Regions from separate parts of the Homo sapiens genome. Here regions 1, 2, 3, 4, 6 and 7 are each reported to be linked to region 5. Evidence: microRNA targets listed by miRTarBase, many of them from high-throughput screens and not tested one by one. Region 5 holds a microRNA gene; each other region holds the end of a gene's coding sequence.

What was found. Region 5 holds the annotated microRNA hsa-miR-627-3p (UCUUUUCUUUGAGACUCACU, at 1,181-1,200, opposite strand). A microRNA usually pairs through its seed, bases 2 to 8, with sites in the 3' UTR of a target mRNA and lowers its output. Matches are read on the target gene's strand: a 7mer-m8 pairs with bases 2 to 8, a 7mer-A1 pairs with bases 2 to 7 and ends in A, and an 8mer does both.
Region 1: the mRNA of RALGAPA2 is a reported target of hsa-miR-627-3p. The part of its 3' UTR that is shown has no 7-base or 8-base seed match.
Region 2: the mRNA of METTL16 is a reported target of hsa-miR-627-3p. The part of its 3' UTR that is shown has no 7-base or 8-base seed match.
Region 3: the mRNA of ASH1L is a reported target of hsa-miR-627-3p. Seed matches in the 3' UTR shown: 8mer at 2,072-2,079.
Region 4: the mRNA of TAS2R30 is a reported target of hsa-miR-627-3p. Seed matches in the 3' UTR shown: 7mer-m8 at 3,543-3,549 and 7mer-m8 at 3,515-3,521.
Region 6: the mRNA of WDR75 is a reported target of hsa-miR-627-3p. The part of its 3' UTR that is shown has no 7-base or 8-base seed match.
Region 7: miRTarBase lists ZSCAN25 as a target of hsa-miR-627-3p. Seed matches in the 3' UTR shown: 7mer-m8 at 2,465-2,471.

Annotation. Positions count from the first base shown.
Region 1 is chr20:20,393,107-20,397,173 of GRCh38, forward strand. RALGAPA2 (Ral GTPase activating protein catalytic subunit alpha 2) reads right to left here. Exons shown (of 40, transcript NM_020343.4): 39 at 3,589-3,628; 40 at 1-147. The coding sequence ends at 3,624. Among named protein-coding and RNA genes, the nearest start is that of INSM1, 27 kb to the left of the region's middle. RefSeq lists enhancers at 1-883, 1,678-2,222, 2,223-2,766 and a silencer at 3,139-3,433.
Region 2 is chr17:2,416,485-2,420,551 of GRCh38, reverse strand. It overlaps METTL16 (methyltransferase 16, RNA N6-adenosine), which reads left to right. Exons shown (of 10, transcript NM_024086.4): 10 at 1-4,067. The coding sequence ends at 582. Among named protein-coding and RNA genes, the nearest start is that of MNT, 17 kb to the right of the region's middle.
Region 3 is chr1:155,334,370-155,338,436 of GRCh38, forward strand. It overlaps ASH1L (ASH1 like histone lysine methyltransferase), which reads right to left. Exons shown (of 28, transcript NM_018489.3): 27 at 3,720-4,021; 28 at 899-3,382. The coding sequence ends at 3,291. Among named protein-coding and RNA genes, the nearest start is that of MIR555, 10 kb to the right of the region's middle.
Region 4 is chr12:11,129,644-11,133,710 of GRCh38, forward strand. TAS2R30 (taste 2 receptor member 30) reads right to left here. Exons shown (of 1, transcript NM_001097643.2): 1 at 3,315-4,067. The coding sequence ends at 3,642. The region is part of intron 1 of PRH1-TAS2R14 (PRH1-TAS2R14 readthrough); the gene reads right to left. All of the region lies in intron 1 of PRH1-PRR4 (PRH1-PRR4 readthrough), which reads right to left. It also overlaps a transcript of PRH1 not described here. Among named protein-coding and RNA genes, the nearest start is that of TAS2R30, 3.0 kb to the right of the region's middle.
Region 5 is chr15:42,198,413-42,202,479 of GRCh38, forward strand. MIR627 (microRNA 627) reads right to left here and starts at 1,254; the gene lies at 1,158-1,254. It overlaps VPS39 (VPS39 subunit of HOPS complex), which reads right to left. Exons shown (of 25, transcript NM_015289.5): 2 at 1,484-1,549.
Region 6 is chr2:189,474,821-189,478,887 of GRCh38, reverse strand. WDR75 (WD repeat domain 75) reads right to left here. Exons shown (of 21, transcript NM_032168.3): 21 at 3,336-3,675. The coding sequence ends at 3,471. Among named protein-coding and RNA genes, the nearest start is that of WDR75, 35 kb to the right of the region's middle.
Region 7 is chr7:99,629,742-99,633,808 of GRCh38, forward strand. ZSCAN25 (zinc finger and SCAN domain containing 25) reads left to right here. Exons shown (of 8, transcript NM_145115.3): 8 at 1-2,667. The coding sequence ends at 279. Among named protein-coding and RNA genes, the nearest start is that of ZSCAN25, 15 kb to the left of the region's middle. RefSeq lists an enhancer at 96-742.

The DNA of each region.
Region 1 (4,067 bases), not on the chromosome of region 5:
AAGACCTGCTGAGGGCACTAGTACAGCAACGAAATTTCCTGGAGATTCTGGGTTTAGTGGCTCGGGGCAGAGGCAGGAGAGGGTGTTCTGTCTCCTCCTCACTCAGGGGCTCTTCGAGGTCAGCACTCAGACTGGAGGCCAGGGCCCCTGCAAAGGAAGCAGAGAACTGCTAAGTCATGGAGGCAACGGCGGCTCTACGGCCACACATTTCAGGGAGGATCTGTGGCACTCAGAAGGGAGGGAAACTCCCAGGAGAAGGGTCTGGTGACCTCCTCCCACGCTATGCCGGCAAAGATGTTTGTTGAATGAATAAACACATGAATGTCTTTCTTCTTATTCTTTGCCCTGGGCTTTTCTGCAGCATAAAAGAAGCTATGAATCTTGTGAAATTAATTCAGACTTACTGTCCAATTCATAAGTAAAGAATGAAGAGAAAAGGCATCTGGTCACAGTGAAAGGGAGGAAGAGCCACTGAAGAAGCAGTGGCTGGAGTCAATGGAAAAGCCCGTGAAACTTCAGAGGCCGCTCTGCAGATCCCTGGCGGTGTTCCTGGAATCTCCACGTGTTTACATATCGATATTCTACACAATGAGTTACAACTCGATTATTCCCCAAAGGGTCTAAGACTAGAGGTCAGTCCTAAATTGCTTGTCTGAATGAGTCCAGATGAGCATACAGCTGTTCATCACTGGAGGGAAAAGGAATAAAATTAAAACCTGCACATCTGCACCCCCCGCTTCCCCAGGGCTGCTGTCGGTGTGCTCAGAGGAATACAAGAATGCCTGCTGCAACACCAAGCCACTGTTGCGGGTGGAGCTGGGTCTCCCCTAGCACCGTTCTGCGAGCGAGAGGATCATTTCATCACCCTTCCCCTCGTAGTGTATTTTTAAACCCTGTTGTATTATGCCCCAAGTTTCCTGCATGACCTCTGCTGGGAACCAACCTCAGAAGCAGAGTTTCCACATCTTCCTCCCTGCGTGATTCACTTGCAGGGCTTTGGCCTTTGAAATTATTATTATTATTGGCATTTGAAATTAATTTAAGTCAGTTATTTTATTCACAGACGCATCTTTTTTCATTCTCTGACCTTCCCTTATTGTTTCTAGGAGGAGTTTCCAAAATCAATACTTGCAAACGTGCTTGGACCTATGGAGGCAGCCTGGCTCAGGGTGTCCTGAAATTCAGTACTTTCAGAGTCCAGGGGCTTCATGGTTGCCTCCCTTCTTCTAGGCTCAGTCAGGTCGGGCATACAGAGAAGGCTCACTATTCTCATCTTTAAAACAGGCTGCAGCCGGGCGCGGTGGGCGGATCGCTTCAGCCCAGGAGTTCCAGACCAGCCTGGGAAACACAGTGAAACCCCGTCTCTACAAAAACATTGCAAAACTTATCCAGGCATGGTGGTGCGCACCTGTAGTCCCAGCTACTTGGGAGGCTGAGGTGAGAGGATTTTGAGCCTGGGAGGTCAAGGCTGCAGTGATGGCTTCACTGCACTCCAGCTTAGGTGACAAAGTGAGACCCAGTCTCAAAAAAAAAACACCACACATGAAAAACCTCAGAACACAAAAACAGGCTGCTTCTGACAAAGGCAGCACAGCTAGACCATCATCCACAAGAGAAGCTAGATTGTTACAAGGCATCTCTCCATCCCCTCGCAGCTGGTGGTGGGCACTGGCATTTAATCCAGGGTGTGGGGCAGCATGGGAGAACAGACTTGATTTAATCCCAGACAATATTCCAACAGCCCAGCCCACTATGGTAATCAGATTGATTCTAATAAATAAGCAAAAAAAAAAAAAAAAAAAAAGGCAAGTAAATGAAAGATATAAAGTGAGATCCAAAGAGAAAGAGCGAACCTTTGCTAATTCTGGATTCGAAGGAAAACATTTTAGTTCCTCTGCCCCACCCACTCACCCAGGGAGGATAAAGAGGGAAAGAGGGGTGCACCTCGAGTTCCTGCAGATGGACAGAGGAATGCCAGCTTTGTCCCGCTGAGTGAGCCTGGAGAACAGCAGGAAGCTCTGCAGAGAAGGGGGCCTGTGCACCTGAAAGCAGGGATCCCATGGCCAGGGGCAAAGGGCAAAGCCACCCCTGCAGCTGGGCTGCAGCCAGTGCCACAGTGCCCTACACAGGCCTCTGGTCCCCAGCTTTCTGCTGGGACATTCTCATCTGCACTGGGCCCTCGTGCCACAGCACCCCGTGGTGGGGAGGTGGCAGCTGCAGGACAGGTAGGCGGGACACAAGGTACGGCCGCCTTCCTGATATGACACGTCCACTCGCAGCTTTGCTCCACTCGCACTGCCTCCTCCCGGTGATGGAAGCCAAGGATTTATTCACAGGACACTCGAACCTCACCTCCCCACTTTGGCGGCAGGAGCAGGAGGACATGCATGGAGACGGGGGTCTCGGCAAATGCGAAGTTTTGCAGCAAGGTGCCCTGCTGGGAGGGGACTGTACAACCCTTCTCTGCCCCATCTTGACATGAGCACCTGGGCTCTGAGGCTCGTGTCACCTGTTGGGGCTGACACGAGTGAGCCCAGTTTGGGACAATATCAGGACTGGGCTTAAGCCTTGGGTGAGGGGAAGAGAAAGGGCAGCTGGCTGGAGGGTCGGCTGGCTGTGATGCTGGCTGCTCCTCTGGCCTGCAGGTCCAACAGCCCTGCCTAGCAGAGGAGGGTGAAGGTTTGGATAAACCAACAAATCTGGACCCTAACATCCCACTTCCATATTTACTGAGACAAAGTGACTGGTGTCTGTGCCTTGCATTCCACTGTGGGCGACAGGCTCAGGAACGGCAGCTCGCTCACTTGCTTTCTCCTGTGAATGGCATTGCCGTGATCCTTGTCATTACCAACTGCTCGCCTTCCGCCTGTGAGCCTGGGAGGTGGTGCAGCCCAGGCCACACGGGACAGGGTTTTCAGACAGCCTTGCCAAGGCGGCTGCCATCCATCAGAGCGCTCTGGGCAGGGCCTGGACCCCAGACCCAGGACAGAAAGGCAGGCTGGGGAGGTCACACCTGCCATGGCCAGCCTATCCTCTGGGTCCTAGACCGCAGCCCATTCCTAGGTCTCCACCCTCTGCGCTCCCGCAGCTTTTGTCCGCTTTTCCTTCCCCAGCTGTTCCATTCAGCAGCCCCCGCCACAACCTGCCCTCCCCGCATGGAGGTCTCAGAGGCCTCCATTAAGGCTGGCGGTCAAAGGCCGGCCCAGCACGTGCCGTGTCTTATCGGCCCATCTCAAGACCCTGCTCCTTCAGGCCTGGGCAACAAAAAAGGGGGCGGCCCCAGCGCCCGCTGGCTCCCTGCAGCCCCACACACAAAAGGGCAGGCGACAAAGACATTTTCCGGGATGGCAGGTGTTGGTGTCGGATTCCTCCCCGAGTGCACGGGCAGAAGAAAGGCAAGGCTGGGCTTCCCCGGGCAGCGCAGACATGCAGGGGCAGGAGTGTGGGCAGGGCCCCCGGGGAGGGGAAGGCCCAGGAGGGCGAGGAGCACTGATGCAGGGTCCGCTACCGAGGGCAGCCGATTAGAAAAGTCCCACCCCCTCCCCAAAGCAGGGTGGCTGGACAAATCCACTGAAGTGTCTGTCTTACCTTGCTCAAATATTGAAATGAGACCTTTACGTGTTTTAATCTGAAGGGAAAGAACACAAAATGGAATGAATACAAACACAACACCCCCACAGCTCCAACTTGATAACTAACACAGTGCTAATAATACATTTATCCCTGAGCTGCCCAAGCATTTCTGCAGCCTTGTCAATCAGTAAAAACTGAACATTCACTTGAAAATTCTACTTGATAGGACAAAATACAAGCCGATGTCGTGTTTACAAATGTGAAATGAGAGAGACATTAGAACTCCCAGGATCTACGCATGCAGACCTTGTCAGGATCTATGCATGCAGACCTTGTCAGGAGCCCTACAGATGCTGAACAGCACTGACAGCTATATCCTTTCCCTGCTCTCCAACTTTTCCTGACTGATTTTGTTTAAAATACAAAGATAAAAGTGTTTTCAAGACAAGCATTTGAAATTCAATGGATGACCTGAAAAAATAATTGAAACCCCC
Region 2 (4,067 bases), not on the chromosome of region 5:
TTCCTAACGGCCATAGAAAACTCCTGGATTCATTTAAGGAGAAAGAAAAGAGAGCGTGTGAGACAGCTGAGAGAAGTTCCCCGAGCTCCTGAGGACGTCATTCAGGCCTTGGAAGAGAAAAAGCCCACCCCCAAAGAGTCTGGCAATAGCCAAGAACTGGCCAGGGGCCCCCAGGAGAGGACCCCCTGTGGGCCTGCTCTGCGGGAAGGCGAGGCTGCCGCTGTGGAGGGCCCGTGCCCGAGCCAGGAGTCCCTGTCCCAGGAGGAAAACCCGGAACCCACGGAGGATGAAAGGAGTGAGGAAAAGGGAGGGGTGGAGGTTTTGGAAAGTTGTCAAGGCTCTAGCAACGGAGCCCAGGACCAAGAGGCTTCTGAGCAGTTCGGCAGCCCAGTGGCTGAAAGGGGGAAACGTCTCCCAGGAGTGGCCGGACAGTACCTGTTTAAGTGTTTGATAAACGTTAAGAAGGAGGTGGACGATGCCTTAGTGGAGATGCACTGGGTTGAGGGCCAGAACAGGGATCTGATGAACCAGCTTTGCACCTACATACGTAACCAAATTTTCAGGCTTGTTGCAGTTAACTAGAAACCTCCTGCACAGTTGGAAACGTGTTGATAGTAACTTGCTTTGGAGTGGCCTGTGGGGTGGCAAGAGGAATCCTACCAGCGGCCCATTAGTAGCACGATGTGGAATTATCTTCGAAAACAAAAACCTATGAATCTGTCCCCCACCTCCCCCCGCCTCCTTCCCGCTTTTTGAGTTACAGGGAGTCGTAGTGTGGTCATTTACAAGGAGGAATTGTGGTCATCAGTAACAACAGAAAGCCCTCAGTAAACTCCCGAGGGATTGCAAGCTGGCTCAAGCTGGCCCCTCAGCTCTGGACTGCCTCTGCAAGGTCAGAAGGGTTGTTTGTGGAGTCTGGGCTGGGCAGCACTGCCTAGAATATCATGCTGTCTCTGTCACCCAAGGGTGTTTCTTGAGGAGGGGTGGCTCTCTCTGCCTCCAGCTGGAGGCCCTGGTACCCTGTTCTAGGTCACTCTTCAAGATGGGGCCTACCTTGCATCAATCCCACAAAGGGAGCTGTATGGTGGGTGGTGGGGAATCTGGGAGAGAAACCTTAGTAATGCTGGGAAGGAGCAGCAGAGTCTGGGGACCACCCGGTAAATGGCACATTCCTGACACCTGGCTGTTTTGATGTTGCTTATTTCAGAAGCAGAATTAGGTAAGCAAAACTCCCCGGTGTGACTGAGGCACACAGAAGGCACCCATACCCCCACCTCCAGCCTGTTGACAGTACCATTTTGTAGCAGTTTTACTACTGTGTGATTTTTGTTTGGACATCTGAAGTAGAGCTTGTTTTGTTTTTAAATAAGAATATTCACAAATTAAAAACCAGCGGTCCTATTTGAATCCTGGGGTTAGCTGAGTGAGCGGCTGATGATAGAAATGAGAAATAGAACAAAATAGTATGTGCCGTAGGTAGCTTAAGAAAGTCTCAGATATTTTGTTGCTGATCAAATACTGTTTTTTTGTGGCTTCACTTGTAATCCCCCCTGTACTTACCTACTCACATTGGAGAGTTCTGAGGCCGGAGTAACTGTGTCCTTGAAACACGTTTCTAATTGGAATGCCAGGGTTCAGTAGCCGTCCCCCCGGAAAGGGGTGACCTTTTGCTGTGCTTGATGTTGCATCAGCAGCCTAGGGTTCTGTTTAGACTAAAATCTTGGCCAGAGCTCCTTGCCATCTGCTAAGAAGACTGGGGCTGAGTAGTTAAGCCAGCCTTCTGAGAGGTGGCTGTTGGTCAGGACGGGAAGCTGGTGACCTTGGCATGTCTTGGCAGCAGCTAGATCAGGCCCTCGGCAGAGACACAGGAAGCGGAACTGCTGTGCCTTAACTTGGCTGTGGAGCTGGAGCTGGAGAAGGCAGCATACTGACCAGTGGCTTTTTGATTGATTGTTTGTTATGAGGTGGAGTTTTACTCTTGTTGTCTAGGCTGGAGTGCCGTGGTGCGATCTTAGCTCACTGCAACCCCCGCCTCCCGGGTTCAAGCGATTCTCCTGCCTCAGCCTCCCAAGTAGCTGGGATTACAGGCACGCGCCACCACGCCTGGCTAATTTTGTGTTTTTGGTAGAGATGGGATTTCACCATGTTGGCCAGGCTAATCTCGAACTCATGATCTCGGGTGATCCGCCCACCTTGGCCTCCCAAAGTGCTGGGATTACAGCCGTGAGCCACTACTCCCAGCCTCTGACCAGTGTTCTTAACCTGGTCCGTGGACCTCCAGAGAGTCCATGTACCTCCTAGAGTTACTTCTAAAAGCTCTGTGAGCATGTGTGTGTGTGTGTGTGTGTGTGTGTATTTTTTTTCCTGGAGAGAGGGTTCCCAGAACCCTCAGACACAGACAAAGGGGTCAATAACCCACTAAGGATTAAGAATCATTATTCTAGTCCAAGCATTCATGTGTCAGGCTGCAAAAAACAATACCCAGGGTCACACAGAGCCAAGACTCAATTCAGGACCGTGGATTCCCCTGGTCTAGAAATTTTCTGCTGTGCCAGCCCACACCACCCCACTGTCCTTACCTCGAGTGAATATTACATTTGAGTCATTTGCTGGGCCCAAACCTAGTTTCCTTGGTATAATTTTAGGATAATTGTTTAAGTGGCAACTATTCATTCAGTAAGTAGTAAGTACTTATTGTTTGCTTGTTTCATTATGAAAGAGTGGCACATGCTCATTAAAGATTTGGAAAAATGAAAGTCAAAACAACAAAATCACCCCGAGTCCCAACCTTCTGTAACATAACCACTCTTGGCATTGGCGTGTTCCTTTCTAGTCTCTCTGTAGACGGGGTGTGTGAGTGTGTGGGTTTAACTTTGGTTGTCCTCATGCTGCGTATTCAGTTTTGTATTCTGGTCCTTTGTTCATTTAACATCTTACAAGTATTTGTCCATGTTGTAACAGTAGTGTATTAGCTTACACTCCTTGCCTGTTCAAAATGTCTTTCAGGCACAGCACTGGCCTTTAAGCCTGTGTCGTAGGGATTTCCAGAGAATGCTCTGTGTATTGAAGCACAGAAGGTGTTTCTGTGTCTCAGTGTGTTTCTGTCCCTAGGTTTAAGGCTTCATGTCATGGAGGAGATTTTATAGATGTCAAGCTAATGACCTTAGAGTTTTAAAAAATCCGTGACCGTGGCCAGGCGCAGTGGCTCACGCCTGTAATCCCAGCACTGTGAGGCTGAGATGGGCGCATCGCATGAGGTCGGGAGTTTGAGACCAGCCTGGCCAACATGGCGAAACCCCGTCTCTACTCAAAATACAAAAATTAGCCGGGCATGATAGCACGTGCCTGTAATCCCAGCTACTCGGGAGGCTGAGGCAGGAGACTCGCTTGAACCTGGGAGGTGGAGGTTGCAGTGAGCCGAGAATGCCACTGCACTACAGCCTGGGCGACAAAGTGGGACTGTCTCAAAAAAAAAAAAAAAAAAAAAAAAAAAGGAACCCATGAGCAGGCCAGCTTTCAGTCTGGAGCCGAGTGCCTTCTGTGCATTTGGATGTTTCCATTTCCTTCCCTGAGAAGATTTTCTTAGGCTACCTAGTGAGAGAACATTGAAAATATTTTTAAAGGACATCTAAGCATTGTTTTGGTCATGCATATGCTTTATAATTGTGTGTTGTTTCATAGCATATACCTCTGGTACAGGTGGGCAAGTTTTTCTTTGAAGAAATGGGTTATTGACTCATATGTCATAACCTTGAGTGTTACTCTCCCGGTGTCCAGAGGTCACATTCATGTTGCGGGGTTGGTATGAAATTAAATCTTGGTGATGTGACCCTACATTCTCTTCTGGTCCCTAGAATCGGCTTCTGGTCTCCTGATAACTGAAGTGGAGACAGAAGTTGAGCCTGTTGCCCAGGCAAACTAAAGCTGCTTTTGTTCTTCGGAATCTGCTTTGCCTCCGTCAGCCTGCTTCCTTCCCCACACATGCTGGCCGCACTGTCCCCACTCCAGACCTCTGCTGTGTGTCCTGGGCAGGGCCGCGTTTTGGCAGTACCCTTTCAACTCATCCT
Region 3 (4,067 bases), not on the chromosome of region 5:
GCGGAGGTTGCAGTGAGACGAGGTTGCACCACTGCACGCCTGCCTGGGTGAGAGCGAGACTCCATCTCAAAAAAAAAAAAGAAAAAAAAAAAAAAGAAAAGAAAAGAAACAGCTGGGCCAGGCGTGGTGGCTCATGCCTGTAGTCCCAGAACTTTGGGAGGCTGAGTTGAGTGGATCACTTGAGCCCAGGAGTTTGAGACTAGCCTGGGCAACACAGGGAGATCCCTGTCTCTACAAAAAATAAAAACATTAGCCAGGCGTGGTGGTGCGCCCCTGTAGTCCTAGCAACTCAGGAGGCTGAGTTGGGAGGATTGCTTGAGCCCAGGAGGTTGAGGTTGCAGTGAGCTATAATGTGCCACTGCACTCTGGCCTGGGCAACACAGTGATGCCTTGTCTCAAAAACAAAAAAATTAAAAAAAACCCAACAAAACAGCTGGACTACGTTAGGCAACACGGTGAAACTCCGTCTGCACAAAAAGTGCAAGAATTGGCCAGGCATGGTGGTGCATGCCTGTAGTTCCAGCTATTTGGGAGGCTGAGGCAGAAGGATCATTTGAGTCTGGGATGTGGAGGTTGCAGTGAGCCGAGATTGTGCCATTGCACTCCAGTTTGGGTAACAGGGAGACTCTGTCTCAAACACAAAAAACAAAAAAGCAACTGGACATTTGGTGTGTGTTATTACTGTGCTGATTGATTAGGCTGAGTCCAGACTAGAAAGATCCTAGTACTGAAGAAATGACTTTATCCAGTAGTCAACGGCAGTGAGTGTGCTCATGTGCAGCCTAGCATGTTTATGATGTTGTTTCAGAAAGATCCCCTTGGAAACAGGATGAGGTTGTCTTGGAAGATAAATGGGGGATAAGAAGGAGGAAAAAATAGCAAGCTCATCAGTCCACAGTTAGGAAAAGTTTTTTCCATTTAATACTAGACTTTCAAGGATTGAGATGCAAGCTTTGTATGCAATTACATCCAATGTTAAAATTGGTAATACATAATTTACAAAGATTAACATCAAAACAATCATCTATTTAGATATGCTTTTGTAAAAAGGAAATATATTAGCAGCATTTATATTTTCCGCAATCACACAGCCTACAGACATGCAGACTAACTCTGTATCTATTTGCAGTGATGTAGTGCTTTGCCCCGCATTTCAAACACCAAAACCCGCCTGGCAGCTGGGGGGTTCTTTTTATTTCGTTATTATAAAATAACTGAAAAATAAAAAAAGGCATTAATTTCTACACCAGTAAGAAAAAACAAGTTTTTGCACTTACCTAACATTTGATTGTCTAAAAAACATTTCAGTTTTTTTTTAGTCTTTCAACAAAAGAAAGATAAAATGACAGAGCGTAGTGTCTTTTGCTTCTGTTCTCGCATTTTACAAAGTTTTTTTTTCTTTTTCATCTTTTTTAAAATTTTAGTGTTTAACACTATAAAGGAAACATTGAATTTTAATCTCTTTCTTGTCATTTTCTCGCTTTTGACTAAAAGGAGACCCCCAAAGTGCCCCTAGTCCCACCTCCCTCCCACCCACTCCCTGCAATGAAAAACAAAAGAAACCACTCAAACGGGCTTGGACATGCGATTTTTCCAGCTCCACATGTGAGTATCTTATACCCAGGTCTCTTAGTAATGTACAGTGCTTCTCTACAGTAAGAAAATACTCCAAACTATTTTCTTAATTCTCTTTTTTCTTTAATAAAATATTTATTTTGCTTTTTCTCTGCTCAAGGGGATCATTGGCATCCCCTCTCTCTTTTGTTTTTTCCTCAAGAATGACACAGAAAGGGGAAAAAGGAAAAAATATTTAATGGAATGGAAGGTGGTCAATGTGTCTACCTAAACGAGTCAGAGCATCGTCACCATAAGGGGAAATGTACAATTAGGACAGCATTGGTCCAATATTAGAAAAAAGTAATGGGGACATGTTTACTATTGTATTGCTTACCAATCACACAGCAGGTGTGTGTGTGTGTGTGTATATATATACACACACACATATATATATACACACACATACACACATATATATACACACACACACACAACTTGGCACATTTAAAAACCATCTTTTCTCTTATAAGAACATCTAAAACATATATGCATATGTATGTCTGAAAAGACAACAAAGCTTTTTAAATTTTATTTTTAAAGAGACAGTATAGTCTGTTAACTTCTGGTCAAGAGAGTAGGAAGGAAGGAGACACCCTGGATATACCTCCTGATGTCATTCAGGAGGGTGAGGGAAGATGGGCTAGGGGTGAAGAGAAATATACTGTCTCTTTAAGAAAGGGACATTGAAAACTGTACAATTAAGAAAACAAGAGTAGTGTTTTCAATTGATAATCTATACTCACAACAAATACTCTGATAGGTGAATACTGCTGAACAGTTTATGTAGTGACTTTTGTTGCAGGGGTGGGTTTAGAGTTCTTTTTATGTAGGTTTTTAAATGATTTTATTTTGAACTGAATCTCCATTTGCACAGCACAGCAGACACACAAGAACTACAGCGCATTAAAAACAGCATGTGTGCTGGCGGGGGCCTGGCTTTCTCATTAGAAAAAAATATGTTTGACAGGTTATGAAGGGTAAAACAAAAATAATTGCAAGAACTACCGTGCCCTTCTGACCCCATGGGGGCCTTCCCTATCCCATGATTCCATTTTGGGGAGTAGAGGTAGGGAGGGGGCAGCAGTTACAAGTGCTTTGAGCTGTCAACTCACATTTTACTTTGACCTGGTTGGGCAAGAAAGGAGAGACAAACTTCCCTAGTCAGGTATCTAGGAAGAAGCCTCAGCTACTGTTTCTGTTTAAGGTCTCTGGGGTAGCTCTTGGAGCCAACAGAGAATAGATGGGGTAGGAATAGGGATCCTGGCCCTATCCCTTTGGATTTTGAGTTATACCTGGGTATAGGAAGCAGCTTCTTCGCAATGCCTGTGGGATCTGAGGATGACAGAAAAACCTAAGCTGTGGGGTGGGGCAAATGCTATAAAGTACCAGTAGGTTCTGGTCATCAATGTGGTCCTCCCTCCTCTCTACATTATTAACCCTTAAGGTGAAGCAATGGAGAAGAAAATTAATTAACCTGAACTGTCTTGGACAGAACCCTTTCCTCTCCCTCTCCACTAGCTCCAAGGCTTATTAAGTACCTAATGTCAACAACATGGCCCCATTCCCCTTGCCCAGATGGACCCTTCCCACCCCTGTCTATACCCAGAGAGCAGGAGGCAGGACTGATTAGCTCCACTGGATCCCAGATGCTTGAGGTTCTCATTCTTTGAGGGTCACTTTCGAAAGCTGTTTTCTGGGATAAACAAAGTACGCCTTCGCAGTTTCCTGCCTGATCCTTCCTCCAGCAAGTAGGTCACATCAATGGCTGAAAACAGAACCAAGGAGGCTCATCAAAATACCAATCTCCTACTCCTTATTCCAGATTTGAGCTCTAAGGAGAGCACACGAACTCAATGATTCCTTTTCTGACCTATAAGCAATTTAGCCCATCCTCCAACCCTACGTGAAAAAGGTGGTTCTTTAGAGGAGATCATCTCACCTTCCAGTTTCACTACCAAGATACAACTAAAAGCAAGCCTATAAAAGAACTATACCATTTTCTTAGAATACTTTGGATGCTGAACCAGTAATTACAATTTTTTTCCATTCCCTCTCATTTCGCATTTATCTTAAACCCTAGATATGAACCTGATTCTTCTTACCATTTTTTCCAGGGATTTTTTCAAGGAGATTGAGCAAGATCTGGTTGAGTCGTTCCCGTTGGTTATGCCGTCGTTCCTCAGGGGTACAGGTTGACTGGGGTTCTTGACTACTTTCCTCTGTTTTTTTTTCACCCTCACTGACGTTAGCAGTGGCCCCTTCCCGTTCTGGCTCCTCCAGGCTGGGTATCTCATTGGCTGCTTGCTCTTGACTGGCTAGAACCTCTTCAATCAAGGGTAGAGCATCATCCTCCTGGCCCAAGTCTTTTAGGGGTGGCTTTGAGCGCTCAGACTTCCAGGATGATCTGCCAGAAGGATATCTGAATTTAGTGTAAGACACTTGAGGAGGAA
Region 4 (4,067 bases), not on the chromosome of region 5:
TATCTTCACTGAGCAGAGCAGAGCTTCTGGTACTTTTTGTGGGGCTAGTGATTTGGTGAATGGTTCTTAATCTACACCCATTATGAGGGAAAATCAAAACAATTTGCCTTGTAAGAATAATAGCACTGCTTCACTGTTGTATGTCAGGGCTATGTCACTTCTGTTCTCAGTTTAATTTACATTTTTTAAAACATCCTGCCAGTTTAATGTATTGATAATATTACAGACCGGGCCCTGTGGCATATGACTGTAATCCCAACACTTTAGGAGGCCGACACAGGCAGATCACTTGAGCCCAGGAGTTTGAGACCAGCCTGGGTAACACGGTGACATCCCAGCCCTACAAAAAATACCAAAATTAGCCAGGCATGGTGTTGTGCCCCTGCAGTCCCAGCTGCCAGCAATGCCGAAGTGGGAGAATCACTTGTGCCCAGAAGGTTGAGGCTGCAATGAGCTGTGATCCTGCCACTGCATTCCAGCCTCAGGGACAGAAAGAGACCGTGTCTCAAAATAATACCAATAATAATATATTAGTTGGTACAATAATCAGGAAATGGCAAGTTTCTTCAGTATAGTAAAATATTATAACATTGAGCAGAAGTAAAATACCAGAAGAAAATAGATAAATCAGAGAAGATTCAGGGACCGACAACATAGGTGATGTTTTAAGGTTTTTAGTGTCCCTAGTCCACATGCTGAGACAATCTTTTTTACAGTAAACGGCATTTTGCTCTCTCTATATATTTCCTATCACTACAAAAGAGACACTATGTTTTGGGGGCCTACTGGGATTTTGGAGACAACATATTCCACATTTGAGAATATTGCTCTGACTCACGAACGATGTTTCTAAAGGCTACTGGTCTCAAATGGAGCCCAGAACTAAAGAGGGCTCTACAGAAGATATAGGCTCTGGTCCAGGCTGCTCTGGCCACTGTGCCAGATGATCCAGCGGAATTCAAAGCTGCTAGAGGCATGCATAGTGGGCATTATAGGACTCTGTGCATGTCTCTGACAAGCCTGTAGGAGAGGGGAGAGCAAATCCCTATGGAATCAGTGTAAGACCAGTGTAAGACCATTCCCTCTTCAGCAGAGGGAATGCTGAAGTATACTCTGTCTGAAAAGCCAAACAGCAAGTGCAGAACATTAATCCAAGCATAGAGTCACTCTAAGCACAAGCCCCTATAAGCACAAAACCCTGTACAACTGTGCAAGTCATATGCTCATAAAGCCAGCCATGACTGGAGGGTATGAGCACGTCTCAGTGGCACAAGGAGTGGTGGTATTGGACACAAACATGTGCTTTCTCAGATTCCCTTCACTATCTCCTGTTCCCCTGGTCAGCACCTTGCCTGATCCAGATCATCCTTCCATTTGGGACTTGAATGCATCACCACACTGTGGGCATGAGGTCTGACTTTCATGACCACCACCAAGGGACTGGATGATGTAAGACAGAACAACAGAGATGGTAGTTCTAACTCAGGGAAACCCTGGCCAAGGGGAAACAGAAGACTAACGACAGCTGAGCAGATACATTCTCCCTCCTCTCTCTCTCTTCCATGGACTAATGCCAGCTGTGGTTTCCCTTTGTAGCCCTTCTGGAAAAGTTCTGGGAGTCAAGTGCATGCATCTGATGACCACCATGCTGTCTCTCTCACCTCACTGTGAAGTGGCTGCCAGCAGTCATACCAGACATCACCACACATTGTTTCACATCGGTTCTTGTCTCAATTTCCACATGTCCCTGCCATTTTTGTCTTGAATTGGCCTTCCATATAAATGTCATCACTTTAATATCAGGTATTACGTTAAAAACATTTTAGTAAAGTAGCTGGTTACTAACTCAATTTTTTGAAATGAAATGCCATTTTTATATGATAATCAACTAGAAAATATCATAATACAAATATATAATTCACAATAGAAAAAAATACATACGCAAATAGACCAAAGTCTTTTATATGCTTTTTTAAAATATTGTAATAGTGGCATCTAATTTTGATGTTCTACCTTGTCGCCAATTCAGACACCTGATACAGCTGCATCAAGACTATATTATTGTGATATTTCCCCTAAAATTGTGGAATAGCCAAACTTTTCCTCTGAGGAAGGATTCTGCTTGGATAAGCCTGTAATCTTAACCTGAGACCAGAACAGGGGAACTCATGCAACTGCAGATTTTGTGATGAGTTTCCCTTTCATTGGTTTACCACATCAGCTTACCCATTTTATCCACCCATTTATTTGTTCATTAAAATATCATTTTTGACCATCTATTCCTTGTGCTGGGTTCTAGGTCCTGGGAGTCAACAGAAAGCCTGACAGACACGATCTCTTCTTTTATGGTTCTTACATTGTACTGAGGAAGATACATGATTCTAAAAAATACATGAATCAGGTGTGGGGATGATTTATCTTAAGGTCTGAACAACATTGTTAAAATTTCATAACACCAAGAATTAATACAGTCATGTAGAATTTAGCTGTAAACAAGACTGTACATTTCCTTCTTATAATAGAACTTCCCATTAATGAATATGTCAAGACAATTCCATTTAATCATTGACAACAAAATTACACTAGGACAAATCCCATAATTAATACATAGATTTCATAGATACTATTTTAACACTTAAAAAAAGTTTCACTGAATTATTTTCCATAATTTTTATACTATTTTCACATTGACAGATTTTTTTTTAGAAAACGGAAGACTGGAGTTCTCTTATCTGAAGTTTAGAAAGAATTTTAAAAATGGAAGATAAGGATATAATTAGCAATTCAGGGGCTTAGAAGTGCTTTAGAAAAAATACTAAAATAATTTACATCTGAGCTCAATTTCAAAAAAAGTTTTTCTTTAATTGAAAAGCTGGAAGAAATGACTGTTCTAACTGCATATGGAAGCTGATAATAGCAATCAAGATCATGATCATGATTTTTCATCCCTCTTATAGCAGAGATTTTTTTCTAAGCTATTCACATACTTGTATTAAATCTAATATTCCTCAGTACTGTTTATGGTACACATACATGAAATTTACTATACGTATACTTCTCACTCAAATTTTATTGTGTTCATTGTTTTGTAACAATAATTCTGATTGCTTTTTACTAAACATAAAATAGGAATTCATAATGGAATAAAACCCTGAAGATACATCCTCATTAGTGATTAAGAATTGAACGACCTTATTATCAAAAAGTTATAGGTTAAAACAACAGATTGTAAGCACACTGTGGTATATTTGTGTCATTCAAATAACAATAGAAAAGAGCAATATTTTTCCTGAGATAAGCTGTTAGTTCTTAATAATTATAAATAGATATAAATTCTACAAATGAAATATAAAATACATGTATGAAATAAACATGGCTTCATAATTGAGGAATTTTTGTCATATTTTCTATAATTTGGCAGTTTTTGTGAAAAAACAATAAAAAGCATGTTATTGTCAATGTTCTTCAGTTTTTCATACACACACACACACACACACACATCTATATATATGTACTTTTCTAGACTAACTTTAGGTAAAAGACTTTTCTAGGTATACATGTGGAAATTATTCATATACATATATTACAGAAAACCCAGTAAGAAATATAAAATGTTTCATACACCACCAGTTTGTTTTCTGCTAGAAGACACACAATGCCCCTCTTGTGAATCTATGGAGACGAAGGCTTCTGTCTTTCACCCAGTACCTCACATGCCGCAAAACTGAAAGAAAAATCTGCTTTAGCTTCTTGTTTCCCAAAATCAGGATGAATGGGTGGGTTGAAGGATAGCTGAATATAATAGCTTGGCAGAACATGAAGACAGGTTGCTTTTCCAGCCTCCCAAAATTACAAACTGATATGATCATGGACAGAAAGTAAATGGCACATAACAGAAGAAAGGAGGTCACAGTTTGCAAAGCTTTTATGTGGACCTTGGTGCTGGGATCTTGAGATCCTTTGCCATGGAGCTGCATCTTCTTGAGATGTTTACACAGAGAACAGATTAACAGCAGAAAAGATATCAGGGTCAGAGTGAGGGGTACAAAGTTTGCTAGCATGGTTAG
Region 5 (4,067 bases):
TGATCATAGCTCACTGCAGCCTCAACCTCCTGGGCTCAAGCGATCCTCTCACCTCAGCCTCCAGAGCAGCTGGAATTATAAGCACGTGCCACCACATCCAGCTAATTTTTTGTAGACAGGGTGTTGCCATGTTGCCCAGGCTGGCCTCGAACTCCTGGCCTCAATCATTCCTCCTACTTCAGTCTCCCAAAGTGCTGGGATTATAGGCATGAGCCACTTCACAGGCCATGAGAATTAAAAATTTAAAACATTAAAACAAAGATCAACAATGTACTGCTCCAGGGCCTAACTGAGGCCTTTGCATGTTTTTGTAAATAAAGTTTTATTGGAACATAGCCATACCTATTCATTACATATTGCCTACAGCTGCTTTCATGTTACAAAGGCAGAGTTAAGTAGTAACAACACTGCAAAGCCTAAAATATTTATTCTTTGGACCTTTTCAGAACAAGTTTGCTGACCCTGATTTAGAGGACAGTTGAAAAACTTAGAAATGAAATAAATTATCTATTTTGTTCTCTGGTTTCTTTTCTTACCCTGCTGCAGAAACTGACCAGGATATCTTCTCTTTCCCGAGTGCACTAGTAAGGTGCTTTTTCCCCCAGTGTTACCCTTGCTCCAGGTTCCACAAGAGAGCTCTATTTATCTTAAGCTATCTCTTAAGCTATTTACCAGAGAAATATATATTATATTGAAGGGTATGAAATTAACTGCAGATTTCTGTAGAGTGGCTCCAGGGCATAATACCTAAACACATCTATTCTCCATAAAGAGAGCACAGAAACGAAAACAAGGAAGGGCAGTGAGGTACTTTCTGCCCCAATAAAAAACACTCTTTAACAGAATACATTTCAAATACTTTAGTTATTACTCTACATTACTGACAGTCACATTTGATTAGAACTTTAGTTTTCACAGTTTCTTCGAGCCTATTATTGCATCCACCCCAACAACTTTGTGGGGCAGAGAGTTTATAGAAAACTGATGTTGGAAAGAACTTGCTCACGGTCACGCAGCCAGGGGGAAGTGCACATGAAGGCAAACCCTGGTCCTCTCTTCTTGTTCTACCCCTCATAAGCCAACAAGATATTTTAAATCGATGTTGCCTAATTTTTTTTCCTACCACCACACCATATATACAGGAAGCTTATGCCCATTAGTAGTATTTCTTATTATTGGTAGTGAGTCTCAAAGAAAAGAGGAGGAAAACAACCACCTCCTCTTTTCTTAGAGACTCACTACCAGTAATAAGTAATTCAGTAATAAGTAAACCAGCAATTCATCCTCACCTCCCAAATGCAGGTAGGGCAATACAATTTGGAGGAGAAAAACCCTAGGCATTCTCAAGTCTTCTCCCCATTTTCCCACCGTGCTCCCTCTAACCTTCAATCTCTCTTTTAATGGTCCAGGAATAACTGATTTCACAGTTGTATACTAGCTGACTATTAAAACTTATTTTTTTGCATGAGCAATGTGCACTTACCAACGTCCTTCCGAATCCTATAGAGAAGAAGATGTCCTTGTTTGGTTCCCACAAGAAGCCATTCCTCTGGAAAAACAAAACAAAACAAAAACAAAAACAAAAAAAAACCAGCTTTGAGAAAGGTCAATCAGCTTGAGTATAACCCTATTTTTTTAGCTGGGGCTTGTAATCAGAAATCAATGTGTCAAGAAAATGAGTTGCTTTTGATAGGAGGTGTTTTGCAAAGCTAAGAAATGTTTATACTCATGTTTGAAAATCAACCATTTAAAAACACATTTATTGAATAATTACTAGGCTAGACATATCAGAGGATAAAAATGTCCTGGCTCAATTGTTTTAATGTTAAACTAATAAAAAAGATAGAAGGGCTTTGTATTTTTAAGATTAAATTATTATGATTTTTATTTTTTGTTATATATACTTTTATTAAGATATATATCTTCAGATATATATTTTTAAATTCTGCTAAAAAGAATATGATGAAAGTTTATAAAATCACAAAATGGAAGTACAAATGTGAAACCAGGTATCCAACCTCAGCAATAATAGCTAAGAGGCATCCTTTAAATGCTTTTACTTTCAGGAAAATAAATGACGTAACATAATAAGCTTACAGAATTCATTATCTCAAAAGATAGTCTAGTAGAAAATATTTAATAACAAGTGTTGATGAGAATATAAAGAAATTAGAATCCTCATACACTGCTGGCAGGAATGTAAAATGGGAGAGCCACTTTGGAAAAGTCTAGCAGCTCCTCAAAAGGCTAAACAGAGTTACCCTGGGACCCAGCAATTCCACTCCTGGTTACACACCCAACAGAAATGAAAACATATTCTACACAAAAACTTGTACACAAATGTTCACAGCAGTATTATCTGTAATAGCTAAAAGATGGAAACAAACCAAATGTCCACCAACTGATGAACGGATAAACAAAATGTGGCATGTCTATATAACGGAATATTAGCTAACAATGAAAAGAAAGGAAGTATGGATATATGCTACAACACAGATGAACCTAAAAACATGATGCTAACTGAAGGAAGCCAGACAAAAGGCCACGTGATTCCATTTATATGAAATGTCCAGAGTAGGCAAATCCACAGAGGTAGAAAGATTAGCGGTTGCCCAGGGCTGGTGGGCTTGGGGGAAAATAGAAAGTAAATACTAATGGGTACTGAGTTTCTTCTGAAAGTGATGAATATGTTCTAAAATTTATTGTGCTGATAGTTGCATAACTCTGTGAATGTACTAAAAACCATTTAATTGTACACTTTTTTTTAACTTTTATTTTTTTAAGATAGGGTTCTACTCTGTTGCCCAGGCTAGAGAGCAGTGGTGTGATCATGGCTCATTGCAGCCTCCACCTCCCTAGCTCAAGTGATCCTCCCACCTCAGCCTCCTGAGTGGCGAGAAATACAGGCATGCACCACCACGTTCAGCTATTTTTTAAAAAATGTTTATAGAGATGAGGGCTCACAATATTGCCCAATCTGGTCTCCAACTCTTGACCGCAAGCAATGCCCCTTCAGCTTCCCAAAGTGTTGGGATTACAGGGGTGAGCGACTGTGCCCAGCCAAATTGTACATTTTAAAAGATGGTCTAGGCTAGTGGTTCTTAAACTTTAGTGTATCACAATTATTTGAGAGTTTGTTAAAATACAGAATGCTAGGCTCTACCCCGGAGCATCTGATTTAGTAGGTTTAAAAGTAGGCCCAGGAATTTTCATTTCTAACAACTTCCCAGATGATGCTGATGCTGGTGGTTCAAGGACCACATTTTGGGAGGCACTGGTCTAGGTAAAAAGAGGCTCAGAAAGAGTTTAAATAATTACCCTGACAGACCCATATTACATCATTCAAGGAAGGTAAGCATGTACAGATACTTCCTTAGCTTTTTGATAACATAAAGGTCACTCATTCCTTTCATAAACTCTCTTGATTCTTGACCTCTGTAAAATAAAATCTTGGATAATGGTACAAATAGATAACTTTTATTGAGCATGTATTGTGTTCCAGGAAATGCTAAACGCATCTGTTATTTCACTAATCCTCACAACTATCCCTTGAAGTAAGTCCTTTTTTCAAATCCCCATTTTATAGATGAGGAAGTTGAGGCCTAGGGAATATATAACTTTTCCAGAGTCACACATGTGGCAAGCAGCAGAGTTGGGATCCCAACCCCAATTTGTCTTGATTCCCAACCACATGCTGTGATGTACTTACTAAGGCACCCATGTCAAAAAAAATGGGTGTCAGCCAAAGGTTGTCTGAATGGCAGTAGTTATATTTATAAAAACAGGTCAGCACCTACATTCCTTATCCAAAGGATCAATAGTATTTCTCCAGGATGATGTTCTTAGTCATCCAGAAAAACAGAGTGATTCTATTTTCTTTGATTTGGGGTCTTAAAGGAAAGGCAGGTCACACACAAAAAAAATGTTGAAATCAGAAATAACAGCAGCTCTAATGAAGGCTGGAGATTTATGCTGCAGCAGAACATGAAAAAATAAAAGAATTCATTTTGCAATATTTGTTTTGTAAAAGATACTATATTTAGAACTTTATAGATATCATGATATCA
Region 6 (4,067 bases), not on the chromosome of region 5:
CAATATACAGAGGGTCATGTTAAAAGCCATGAAAGCAATCTGCAAAATCAGTGACGAACTCACAGGGCAAACTTGATTTTTTCAACAAATTGTGCACAGAAAGAAATAAGAAAAAAACGAAAAAAAAAAAAAGGCAAAGAAGAAAATGTAAACTGAGACTTGAGAGGTCTACTTCAATGGCAGTCTGAGATCCATGGACCTGCTCCTCAGAACAACTGTAATCAGTAAAAGTTACTTTAAAAAACCTAGCCATTTAAAGTCTCCAGAAATTGGCTGGGTGCAGTGGCTTGAGGCCTGTAATCCCAGCACTTTGGGAGGCCCAGGTGGGCGGATCACTTGAGGTCAAGAGTTTGACACTAGCCTTGCCAACATGGTGAAACCCCATCTCTACTAAAAATACATAATTAGCCAGGTGTGGTGGCTGGTGCCTGTAGTCCCAGATACTCAGGACGCTGAGGCAGAAGAATCGCTTGAACCTGGGAGGCGGAGGTGGCAGTGGGCCGAGATTGCACCACTGTATTCCAGCCTGGGCAACAGAGGGAGACTCTGTCTCAAAAATAAATTAAAAAAGTCTTCAGAAATTGTTTTAAGGGTATACAGCAAATGAAGAAACATTTATTCAAGAAATTCTAATAAATCTTGGTGGCAAGAACAGTGACACTCAAGTTACAAAGCTCTCCTTCCTCAACTCAGCCAGCATGATAGGAACTCCATTCTGGGCAGCCGTGGCCAAAAAGACAGAGCTTCCTCTCCCCTCAGCTGTGAGCATTTCTCATTGCCTCCAACTCTCTGTTGCAGAGGCTAAATTCCAGGCCAGAGGTTGGAATCTCTCTTCCTTCACCAAGACCCTACTCACAGAGTGGAGCCTCTACTCCAAGGATGGTAGGCTAAGAATACTGGAGCTCTGGTCGCCACTGCCCCAGCTTGCTTGTAGGCTACTGCCTCTGCTCAATTTGTAAAGCAGGGGTGTCACTCTTGAGAGAACTGGGCCTTTGTGCCTACTCATGGTTCTGGAGCAGTGGCTCAGAGATCTTGCCCAGGGGCAAGAGGCAGTCCATAAGAATACAGTTCTGACATAAGCCTCAAAAACAATGGGGATTTGGGTGGTAAGCAATTAAGAGGAGACTGGTAGCTCCATTAGAACAACAAGCTAAACCATAAACTAGCTAGTTTACCAGAAACAAAGAAAACAAGGAAAGAGACAGCTAAAATGGGTCCTCCTGGGATCAGAACAAACCTCAAAGGCTGGCCTCAAAAACTAACGCTGCATTTTGATGGCAGTGAAAATACTCGTGTAATACTATACTGATGGATACATATTATTATATGTTGCATAAACCCACAGAATTACACCAAGACTGAACACTAATTCAAATTAGACTTTGGGTGATTATGATGGGTTGAGGTAGGTTCTTCAAGTGTAACAAATGTACCACTCTGGTGCACCAGAGATGTTGATAATGGGGTAGGCTATTGCATGCGTTGGGGGAGAGGGTATATGGGAAATCTCCGTACTTTCAATTTTCTTGACCTAAAACTACCCTTAAAAAAATAGACTTAAAACAACAAAAGCACCCCTGAAAGGGATCTCAATTTTTTTTTAATTTCCACCTTCCATCCCACCACCAGTAGAAAGGGACTCAATTTAACGGATGACTGTGGAGCAATTTATGTGCCATAATGTAAATAATGTAAAATGCTGCAGCTGATATGTAAAATCTGGTGGTTCTTCAAAAGGTTAAACATAGTTACCAAATAACCCAGTAATTCCCCTCATAGGTATACTAACAAAAGTGAAAATAAAAAGGAATGAAGTACTGATATATCTACAACATGGATGCTGAATGAAAGCAGCCACTTACAAAAGATCACATATTGTATGAGTCCATTTACATGAAATGTCCAGAATAGGCAAATTTACAGAGATAGGATGAGTTGTTGCATTGTTGGTGAGGTGAAGGAGGCTGAGGGAAATGGCTAGTTTTGGGGTGATGAAAATGTTCTAAAATTGATTGTGGTGATGGTGTCCAAGACTGAACGTATTAAAACCCACTAAATTTTCCTCTTTAAATGCATGAATTGTATGGTTTGTGAGTTACATCTCAAATCTCAATGTAGCTTATTTTTAAAAAATGTAGCCAAGGTCGGAGGATCACTTGAGGCCAAAGAGTTTGAGACTAGCCTGGGTAACATAGCAAGACATCTCTACAAAAAATTTAAAAAATAGCCAGGTGTGGTGGTGAGTGCCTGTAGTCCCAGCCACTTACGAGTCCGAGGTGGGGGTTGGGGACTTGAAAAAAAAAAAGTTAAGATTTTACATAAATAGTGATTCAAAAACACTTTAAGTCTGTTTAGGATGCTACAGACCGGGTGGTTTATAAACAGAAACTTATGTCTCAGTTCCAGAAGTCGGAAAGTCTAACAAAAAGGCACCAGATTTGCTGTTTGGTGAGGCCCCACTTCATAGTTCACAGATGGTTTTCTTCTTGCTGTATCCCCACGTGTTAGAAGGGGCAAAGAAGCTCTCCAGTGTCTCTTTTGTAACAGCATTTATCCTATTCACAAAGGCTCCAGTCTCATGACCTAATCATCTCCCAAAGGCCCCATCTCCAAATACCACATTGAGGATTAGATTCCAACATTTGAATTTTAGGGGGGCACAACAAACATTTGGTCTACAGCACAAACTAAAAAGCCATTTGCAGCAATTTTTGTGAACATTCATTGAGATGTGCTCTTACAAACGCTTTGTTTTTGTGCTAACTTCTAAATATAAATTTTACAAAAGTGCATTAGGGAAGTGGAAAACTCAAAATGCTAGGTGGTTAAGATGTAGCAGCTTCACTGCTTTAACTAAAACAGGGGATCTGGATCGTTTTCTACTAGCAACTGGACTTTGGGTCAGATCATCTGAATTCAGAATTTTAGGCAGCCCATATTATTATATAATATCCTCAGTGAGGTTTGTGGAACACCACATAATCAACTCGTCTCTAAATTTCTCTGAGAGAAATAAATACACTAAGAGGAATAAATCAGGACTAAAGAAACCTCACTCCAGCTCAGGTCACATTTGGCCACCAAATGAATTTGTGTTAAAACAATTATGTCAACAAAGCCTTTTAACTTTCAAATCTTTTCGTATCTCCAAACTGCAGCTTAGGGGACATATGCTGTACAGTTCAAGTCTCAGTTCTGCTGTATCACCTGTGAAGAAAATACCTACTTGTTTTATAAGGCTGATGTGTGACTCAAAATAAAAAAATGAGATGATGTGGTATATCAATGATCCAGTAACTGTAAAGCATGATGCAAATACATGTTCATATTATCAGTTTTTTAAAAAAGCAAAGTTTGTTAATATTTATTATCTTATTTTTAGAACAGAAATAACATTAAAATAGATGTTTTTAGAATATCAACATACAATCAAAAACACAAAGTCCAAGGATCCTCCCCATCTCCAAGGCTTAAAGGGCAGCTATCCAGCTGTAGTCTATTTTCCTAAATTTTCTCAGTTCTTTTTCTTCAGATTTTGACAACTGATGTATAATGTCTTCTCCTAAACCTGTGTTACTTGTATCCTGGACTTTTTCGGTAAAATCATTTTCTTCATCTGAATCTTCACTTTCTTTTTCTTCTTCCATATCTACATCTTCAGGAATTTCCTTAGCACTTTAACAATAACAGAATAAAATATAAACACTATTAAATGTTTCTAAACAGTAACTTTCTAATTTGACACCTATGTAGAAATATAATCACACAAAGTAAATGAAGAATTTTGTTACTAAGTACACTTTAAAAATTATGGGTTATTTATAAAAGAGCAGGTGAATTTACAAACATGTAATTTTAAATTATGTACCAAGCCCTTAAAACACACACATACAAGATCTTTTTTGAAACTTATTTTCAATGTATGTTACTTGACTTAATAATCCTATAGCCTTTAAATCTATTTTAAAACTTATGAAATAAAAAGAAATACAGTGGAAGAATACTCTAAAAAAGGATAAACACAAACGATCCTGTTTCCCAAAAGAGAGTGTCCAAACCTGTCTTAA
Region 7 (4,067 bases), not on the chromosome of region 5:
CACACCGGGGAGAAGCCCTACACCTGCGAGTGTGGCAAGAGCTTCAGCAGGAATGCCAATCTGGCGGTGCACCGGCGTGCCCACACTGGCGAGAAGCCATATGGGTGCCAGGTGTGCGGGAAGCGGTTCAGCAAAGGGGAGCGGCTGGTCCGACACCAGAGAATCCATACAGGGGAGAAGCCCTACCACTGTCCTGCCTGCGGGCGAAGCTTCAACCAGAGGTCCATCCTCAACCGGCACCAGAAGACCCAGCACCGCCAGGAGCCGCTGGTGCAGTGAGCATAGCAGGTGGCAGGCAGCACCATCATTCATCTTTCTCACTGCAGGGCCTTGCGGGGTGCAAGGTGATGGCTGCAGGAAAGCACTGGTCCCATCGCCTTCCCACCCATTCGCCAACGCGGGAAAGGCAAGGCCTGGCTTACTTAGAGCTTCCAGAGAGCATAGCTGCTTCCATCTCTTACCCAAGTGGTGCTAAACAATTTTTCTTCCAATGTTTGAGGGAAGCAGTCTCCTGCGGTTCAGTTCAGGCTGAGATTTTCTCCTTCAGTGGACTGTCTGTGTCCCCCTGCCGAACAAAGCTGGGAGTAAAGGCAAAACCTTGACACGTGTTGGTAGCTGGGACCTCATCTTCCTGAGGGCTCTGTCTTGCCTGCAGGGTCATAGCTCAGACTCTTCCCCCACCCCCTCTCTTTTCCATTGAACAAACATTTATTGAACATCCTCTGAGCACCTGGCCGTGGGAATGCCGTGGTGAATGAGAGACTAGACGTGATGCCTCTGGGGGTTGTGCGTTGGGGATGCATGCGACAGCCCATGACCCGAGGCATTCTCAGGGTATCTGTGCTGTGTGCCCGTGAGAACATCTTCCCATGACCACTCCTGCCCTCCTGCCCCGTGCTGGATCTTCCCTCCCCAGCTGGGATCTGCTCCCAGGCAACTGTGTGAATTTTACATTATTTGGAGCCTCATCTGTGTCAGGCTATAACATTCTATCCTCATCTGTAAAACTTCCCCGTCCATTATTCCTTGCACTATAACAACTGTCAACACACCAACTATTAGGAAGTTAGTATTTTGCTATTGATCACTGAATAAACATCAGAGTATTTTAAAAAACAGTTCTCTAGAAAGAACTGTTATAATTAAAATGAGTCTGAAAGATGAACTCTAGTATTAATGCCCTATATTTGATGGCACTTTATAGTTCATAAAATTAATTTCACCCCATTCTCATTGGACCCATTTCCCAAGTATTTATTGAGGCCCTGTAACAAACATGTCAGGAACTCTTCTGGGTGCTTGAGACACATCCATGAATAAAATAGGGGGAGAAGCTGTTGACCTCGTAGAGCTTATGTCTCGTGGATGTACCTGATCTTCAGAACCCGTGGATATTCCTGCAAATCCTCTGGGCCTGTATTCATTGCTTTGTCAGCATCTTGCCCTGAAATGCATTTGTCACCTACCTCTTGTTACTAAATGGTCTCTGCCCTCCAGACCCTTGTCATCCAAGGCACTAGGGGTCCTGGACACCCACTGGGGATGATGAGCTGGTAGCGACCTGTTTTGCATGAGTGCCAAGTCAGGAAAAATAAAGATATTTGTAGGCATTAAAAAAAAATACATTTCTTTAAAAATGAGAAGATGCAATATTTGTAAACTGTTGAAGCTTCCTTATTGTGCCATCACTTAAGGGTTTCATTTCTGTTTAAAGTTCTGGAAGCTGCATAACTAGCGTGGACTGACTGCTGTGTCATTGTGCTGTGCCTTTGAACCCTGGCTGAGTGAGTGAGTTTGTCCTTTGTTGATAGTGTCCTATAATTGCAAAATGTGGTTTGTCTTCTGATGCCTCTTAATACCAGATTCTTTTACTGAGATTTTTTTTTTTCATTTTCCATTGTAAATAAGGTAAATGGTAATGACTAACACAAAGCTGTATTACTCAGCCCACTTTGAAACGTGGTTTTATCACCTGTTCTTGTTAGGCAGCATGGTGTCTAATTTTGGCTTAGCAAATGACGCTCCTTGGTCTTCCTGGCTCATTAGCTGTGCCCACGAGGCTGCACTGACTGGGTCGTAAATGTATCTGAGATGTCCACACGGGGCTGCTGCTGCTCCTCTGTAATACTGAGGTCCACATGCAAAATCAGCTTTTTTTCCCCCGTAATTATCAGAGCAGCTAGGCAGGGCTGACAGCCAGGCAGACTCAGTGGGAGGCTTCTGGCCTGAGTGTGGCCTTCCCCAGAGGGTGGTTTTCCAAAGGCAGGTGGGGACTGGGGAGGCCTCGGGGGGCTGCTTGTCATTACCTGAATCACAGATGCTCTTTTGTCATACACAGCCAGCATTCCTCTGGGTTTCAGCAAGTTGGCATATCTTAAGCTTCAGAAGGAGCTGGGCCTTGCTGACTTTCCTATCTGGCCTCTTCCCTATCTCCTGTGGGGCCAAGAGCTTAGGACAGTGTCTCAGAAAAGCCTCTAAGTAGGGGGTTTTTCCCATGGGATTGTGGTAGTCTGATTTTTCATATCTATTCAAATGTTAAGAAATATTTTGTTTTCTGTATTTTTCTATTCTTTAGAAATTTTTTTATAATAGATAATTTCAAACCTATATAAATAAATCCTTATGTATTTATCATTTGACTTTATTATAAACTCATAATCAATCTTGTTTCATCTCTGTCCACTCCTTCCTCCCCGTCTTCCTCCCCCACTGAAGTTTCGAAGTGTATCCCAAGTGTTGTTTATAACCATTTCAGTGTGTACCTGTAAAAGGTAAGGGCGGCTGGGTGTGGTGGCTTACACCTGTGATCCCACCACTTTGGGAGGCCAAGGTGGGATTGCTTGAGAGGAGTTCGAGACCAGCCTGAGCAACATAGTGAGACCTCATCTACAAACAAATATTAACTGGGCATGGGTGGTGCATGCCTGTGGTCCCAGCTATTCAGGAGGCTGAGGCTGGGCATCACTTGACCCCAAGAGGTTGAGGTTGCAGTGAGCCCTGATTGTGCCATTGCACTCCAGCCTGGGAGACAGAGCAAGACCCTGTCTCAAAACAAAACAGTTCCTTAATGTCAAAATATCCAGTGAATTTTAAGAACCCACCTAATTTTTCAATATAATATAATTTGTTGCTTTGTCTCTTAAGGCTTATAATCTGTAGTACTTATCCTTTTCTTCTTGAGATTTATTCATTTTAAAAAACTCGATCATTTATCCTGGAGAGTTTTTTACATTCTGCATTTTCTGTTGTTTTTTTTTTTTTTGAGCTGGAGTCTCGCTCTGTTGCCCAGGCTGGAGTGCAGTGGCACAGTCTCAGCTCACCGCAACCTCCCTGTCCCGGGTTCAAGCGATTCTCCTGCCTCAGCCTCCCAAGTAGCTGGGATTACAGGCATGTGCCACCATGCCCAGCTAATCATTCTGCATTTTCTGTTTGCATACCCATGGCGTGATTTAACATATTTCCCTGCCTTCTGTATTATCTAAAAATGTAGAAGTGTTTAGTGGTGTAATCAGATTCATATTTCACATTTTGGCAAGAACACATTATAGATTGTGACATGCCCTGTTTCTCTTCATATGATTTTAGAAGCCTAGATCTGCTTCTTTCGTTAGTTCTGTAAATGCTTCATCATTTAGTAGTTGGAATATTGTAAGAAATTTCCCTTCATTAACTTAGGTTACCCTTAGATATAGTTCATACAGGGAAGGCAAGAAAATGCTTGATCCTCCTCTTTATTTGCCTGTTTTCAGAATAATGAGCTAGTTACTTTTTGCTTCCTGTAAAGGCAGTCAAGTCTGTAGAAATCAATGCATTCATAGCTTTTTGCTTTTATTGGTTTTTTTGAGACAGAGTCTTGCTCTGTCACCCAGGCTGGAATGCAGTGGTGCAATTGTAGTTCACTGCAGCCTCAAACTGCCAGGCTAAGGTGCTACCCCTTCCTTGGCCTTGCAAAGTATTGAGATTACAGGTGTGGGCCACTGCACCTGGCCTGCACTCATGGATTTAAACATACTTGGTATTGATCAGTCTGCTGGAGTTATAATTTGATGCTCAAATTATTTCACCTT